2 separate regions of the Homo sapiens genome follow, and region 2 is linked to region 1. Evidence: fine-mapped expression QTL. A gene starts in region 1. The other region holds a variant in brackets. All regions are shown on one strand. Distances are from middle to middle.

Region 1 (2,906 bases):
CCCCCTTCAACAAGTCACCAGGCCACCAAGAAACCTCCTTCAGCTAGGTACATATCTAACACAGGCCCTTGGGGTCAAGAATGTCAAAACTCACCTCAAAAATTTATTTCTATTTCTCTGAGTTTCATTTCACTTTTTTAAACACACTTAAAACAATATTGTATCATCAGCTTTATTGTTGACTGGGAAAACTATGAGGACAGACAGGCTTAAATTATCTGTGCACGCAGAGGGAAAGATAAGGCATATTACCTTGTTGGAACTCTTTTTTTTTTTTTTTGAGATGGAGTCTCGCTCTTTCGCCCAGGCTGGAGTGCAGTGACGCGATCTCTGCTCACTGCAAGCTCTGCCTCCCGGGTTCACGCCATTCTCCTGCCTCAGCCTCCCGAGTAGCTGGGACTACAGGCGCGTGCCACCACGTCCCGCTAATTTTTTGTATTTTTTAGTAGAGAAGGGGTTTCACCATGTTAGCCAGGATGGTCTCTTATCTCCTGACCTCGTGATCCACCCGCCTCGGCCTCCCAAAGTGCTGGGATTACAGGCGTGAGCCACCGCGCCCGCCCCTGGAACTCATTTTTTAAAAAATTTTTTTGAGATGGAGTCTTGCTCTGTCACACAGGCTGGAGTGCAGCGGCGTGATCTCGGCTCACTGCAAGCTCCGCCTCCCGGGTTCACACCATTCTCCTGCCTCAGCCTCCCGACTAGCTGGGACTACAGGCGCCCACCACCACGCCAGGCTGATTTTTTGTATTTTTAGTAGAGACGGGGTTTCACGTGTTAGCCAGGATGGTCTCAATCTCCTGACCTCATGATACGCCCGCCTCGGCCTCCCAAAGTGCTGGGATTACAGGCATGAGCCTCAATTTTATATTTTGCCCTAGACTCTTATTCCTTAAATCTTCCTTAAAATAGTGGTTGCAAAATGGAGGCCCATGGGCTGGATTCAGCCTGTAAAACTGTTTTGTTTGGACTGTAGAGTTAAAAAAAACAAACAAACCCTGTATTTCCAGCATCTCATTAAAAATCGTATGAGGCACCGGACTTATAGTGGTACAAGACAGCAACTGTCTCTAGCTGACAGTTGTTTCCTTTAAAAGCCGTTAAGAGTTCTTTAATTTGCGAACCCTCGCCATTCACGGAATACCTGCTTGTGTTCTTGTATTCAGGGCACTGGAGTGCGTGCCAGCTGGTCTGGAAGCAGCTCCAGCAAGTCACTTACACGGTGGCCAGGGGCGGCCTGACTTTCAATCCGAGACCCGCCGGGAATGACTTTGGGATAATCACAACCTCCGGTCCTCAGTTTCCTTACCTGTGAAATGGGGCTGATAACGCACAGCTGTGGGAAGCACCGGCCCAAACGCAGGGCTTGGGGACACGACCACCATCCCCGCCCACGGGTCCCCGCGCCAGGCTTCGCTCTCCACCCCTCCCGCCGCGGGCCCCAGCGCTTCGCCGAGGTCGGCCCCGGGCGCCAAGAGGCGTGGTCGGCCCGAGCGGACCCTCGCGGCGGCCATGGCGTCGGTGGTGGAATACAAGGGCCTCAGGGCCGGCTACCACTGCGGCTACTGCGATTCCAAGGAGGGCAAAGCGTCCTGCGGTGAGTGTTCCCGACGCCGGAGTTGGCGCGGCCGCCGCGCCCCGCACAGGCCCTCGGCGGGGGAAAGGGCAGGCTCGCACCCCGACTCCCGCTTCCCTTCCCCTCTTGACTCTCCCCATCCTGTTTCCCTTCCCGCTCTGTCTCTCCGCCTCACCCTCACTGACGACGGCGGCCCCTTATGGAGAAGGAACGGAAATAGTGGAAAGCTGCCCTCGGTCAAGATGGCGCGGGCGGCGTCAGCTCCAAGAGGCGCCGGGCCGGCCGGGCCTGCGGGCGCCCGAGTGGCTTCGCGCGAGCCTCGGGAGGCTCCCGGGCGGCGCGCTGCATTGTGGGGTGGCGGCGGCGGCCGCGCTAGCGACGCGGGGCCGGGCGGCTGAGCGTTCGCGGGGCCGAGGCCATGGCTTTCTGGGCGGGGGGTTCGCCCAGCGTCGTGGACTATTTCCCTAGCGAGGACTTCTACCGCTGCGGCTACTGCAAGAACGAGTCGGGCAGCCGCTCCAATGGTGAGCGAGCCGGGCCGGCGGGCGTGGGAAGCCGGGCGCCCGGGTCTCGGGATCCCAGGGTCCCCCAGCGAGGACGCGAGGGGGCCGGAGCCCCTGGCCCCAGTGCCACGGCCGAGACGGAGGGGGCACTCTCGGGAGGGCCGCGGCGCCGGCTTAGCGGGGCAGCTTCGCGGTGCCTGTTCTGCAGGAAAATCCTAACCGGTGCCCGTACTCTCGAAATCGTGGTGGTCTCCCCAGAGTCGGGAGACGGACGCCCGTCTGGGGTAGATTGTGTGAGGTGAAGGACGGCGCGCAGTGCCAGGGAACGCCCCAGAGCCGTAGTTAATGGCCGGGGCTGACCGGTGGGTGCTGCGGTGGGAGCGTCCCGGGAGCGAGGGCGAAACGCGGTGCAGAGGGAGCTGTGGGTGTGCACACAGGTGCCGGTCATGTATGAATCAGACTTCCCTGGACGAATGTACAGGAAGGATGAGCCCTTTGCATCTCTGGGTTAAAAAAAAAAAAAGTTAAAAAAAAAAAGGACAAGAAACTGGTGACCGCGGTCGCTACCGGCGAGGGATTCTGTTTGTCCTGATCTGTTTGAAATTTTTACCATTTGCTTATATGCCGTGTCTTTCCTCCACCCACCCGGACGACAGCAAAGCCAGCCCACAAGTTTGTTTTGTTTTTCCATCGTGATTCAGATTTCTTTGGGGGAGATTTGTTGCTGGTAAACAAAACATCGTGTTTATTTCCTCTCTTGCCATGCATTTGCCAATATAGAATGTAGACTCTATTATTTTAATAGAACAGTCTAGCTTTGTGGAAAA
Region 2 (2,906 bases), 25 kb after region 1:
CTACTGGGTTCAAGCAATTCTCCTGCCTCAGCCTCCCAAGTAGCTGGGACTACAGGCGTGCGCCACCATGCCTGCTTCATTTTTTTAATATTTAGTAGAGACAGGGTTTCACCGTGTTAGCCAGGTTGGTCTCAATCTCCTGACCTCGTGATCTGCCTGCCTCGGCCTCCCAAAGTGCTGGGATTACAGGCATGAGCCACTGCACCGGGCTGTTTTGGGATCTTAAACACCTTATTTCTTTAATATCTTCTAAAAAATTACTAGCATAATGTTCATTGTTGGAAAATTCGGCCAGGTGCGGTGGCTCACGCCCGTAATCCTAGCACTTTGGGAGGCCAAGGCAGGTGGATCACGAGGTCAGGAGTTCAAGACCAGCCTGACCAGCATGGTGAAACTCCGTCTCTACTGAAAATACAAAAAATTAGCCAGGCATGGTGGCACACACCTGTATTCCCAGCTACTCTGGAGGCTGAGGCAGGAGAATTGCTCGAATGGTCCGGTAGGCAGAGGTTGCAGTGAGCTCAGATGGCGCCACTGCACTCCAGCCTGGGTGACAGAGCGAGACTCTGTCTCAAAAAAAAAAAAGAAAATTTGGAGAAAAGAGAACACTACAAAGAAAGGTAAATCCTGTCTCTGTTTCTGAAACAAAGTAAAATGACTGTTACCATGGTGTCTCCTTTCCAGGTTTTTTTCTAAGTATTTTTATTTAGTTTATAATAGTAAAAATTTTTTTATTTTAAAGGGATGTCAGTTTGATATTTGGTCTGTTAATTAGAACAAAACTCTGATTAACTACAGCTGAACTAATGAGACCCAAATACCTGCAGTATTTGGAGAAAGACACAGATACCTTCAACTAAGCAAGGATTCCTTTTTTGTTTTTTGAGACAGAGTCTCACTCTGTCGCCCAGGCTGGAGTGCAGTGGTGCCATCTCAGCTCAGCACAACCTCTGCCTCCTGGGTTCAAGTGATTCTAATGCCTCAGCCTCCTGAGTAGCTGGGATTACAGGTGTGTGCTACCACACCTGGCTGATTTTTGTATTTTTAGTAGAAATGGGGTTTCACCATGTTGACCAGGCTGGTCTCGAACTCTCAACCTCAGGTGATCTGCCCGCCTTAGCCCCCCAAAGTGCTAGAATTCCAGGTGCACAAGGATTCTTTTAATTTAAAAAAACCTGTCAGTGTTTGCGCTGGGATCAGTATTCCTTTATACCTGGTTCCTAAGTATTTATGTTACCAGTGCTTTCAGAGAAATGTCCCTCAGAAATGTTGGGCAGAGATAGCAGTGTCCTTTTAATGCAGCAGGTACTTTGATTTGATTGTGTTCTTCCTCACAAAGGCAGAGAAGTGGATGAATGTTTTTTTTTAAAAAAAGATATTTGGGCCGGGCCTGGTGGCTCAT[T/G]CCTGTAATCCCAGCACTTAGGGAGGCCAAGGTGGGTGAATCACGAGGTCAGGAGTTTGAGACCAGTCTGTCCAAGGGAGTTTGAGACCAGTCTGGCCAACATGGTGAAACTCCATCTCTACTGAAAATACAAAAATTAGCCAGGCACGGTGGCACACACCTGTAGTCCCAGCTACTCGGGAGGTTGAGGCAGGAGAATTGCTTGAACCTGGGAGGCGGAGGTTGCAGTGAGCTGAGATCATGCCATTGCACTCCAGCCTGGGTGACAGAGCGAGACTCTGTCTCAAAAAAAAGAAAAAAAAGATTTTCAGCAGTAAGAGCCACCTTGGAAAGTTTCTGTGCTATTTACTTTCTCTAGCAACTCCCACTTCTAAGGTAGAATTTTAGATCCACTTACAGCTCTGTATCAGGATCCTCTGAAACATCTACCCCAAAGCTAGCCTAACCATTGAAACTCTTTGGACTTACACTGTAGAATCTTTGAGACATGTGAAAAAACTTTTCTAGAACCAAATGTGATTGGTCTAATATTTTAAAATTCTTTTTAGGCAAAGGGGCTGATTTGAGTAAGCCTCCATGTCGAAAAGCAAAGGAAATCCGGAAAGAAAGGAAAAGGTTAAAACTAATGCAGCAGAACCCAGCTGGAGAACTTGAGGGTTTCCAGGCTCAAGGTCACCCACCATCTTTGTTTCCACCAAAGGCTAAATCCAACCAGCCAAAATCACTCGAAGATTTAATTTTTGAGTCTTTACCAGAGAATGCATCACACAAGTTAGAGGTACTTTGGAGGACTTTTGTTGTTTGTTTTATTATGATTTTTTTTTGTTTGGGCATATCGTTTATTTTTATTTGAAGTTCTAATTAGTTGATGTTTGCTAGTTAAATAATGAGAATTTAAAAGAAATTAAAGAGAACTGGGAAGAAGTAACATTTGTATTTACTAAGTTAACTGCTGTTTGAGGGAAACTCCTTTTTTTTTAAAAGACTTTTTGAGAATACATAGTTGGCCACCAAACTTGTGAAAACAGTGTCAATTTTAGCATGCTACCTTGATTGAAATTTAATAGTTAAAATGAAAGAAATACTCTTTAAAATTGTGTTTTTAGCAGTTTTGGTTTAGATAGTGAAAGACAATAGATTACACAAGGCAAATCACTATTTCATCCATTATAATATTCTGATCTTGGTAAAGACAGCAAATGGTGTCATATACATAAGCCAGCAGTTAGGAATTATCTAAATAGGGCTAAATTGTACTGCTGAAATCCTCTCTCATTAGTGCCAAAACCACTTTGGGCATAATATGAATACTTTTAGAGCCAAATTCCTCCATTTTTCCAAATTTATTTTCGTTTCTAGATCAGATCAAGATTTCTCAGTATTAGTTTCTCATATATAAAATTCAAAAACAAGGGCTGGATGTGGTGGCTCACACCTGTAATCCTAGCACTTTGGTAGGCCGAGGCAGGTGGATCTCTTGAGGTCTGGTGTTTGAGATCAGCTT

The links. PIP is the estimated chance that this variant, and not a neighbour inherited with it, causes the effect.
Region 2: its variant is fine-mapped to the expression of ATE1 in whole blood (TOPMed, PIP above 0.99).

Annotation. Positions count from the first base shown.
Region 1 is chr10:121,927,038-121,929,943 of GRCh38, reverse strand. ATE1 (arginyltransferase 1) reads left to right here and starts at 1,913. Exons shown (of 12, transcript NM_001001976.3): 1 at 1,913-2,100. The coding sequence starts at 1,995. It also overlaps the pseudogene ATE1OSP. RefSeq lists silencers at 1,332-1,631, 1,822-2,241 and enhancers at 1,147-2,013, 2,552-2,701.
Region 2 is chr10:121,901,665-121,904,570 of GRCh38, reverse strand. It overlaps ATE1 (arginyltransferase 1), which reads left to right. Exons shown (of 12, transcript NM_001001976.3): 6 at 1,951-2,180. Among named protein-coding and RNA genes, the nearest start is that of ATE1, 25 kb to the left of the region's middle. The variant T/G (reference allele first, on the strand shown) is at 1,403.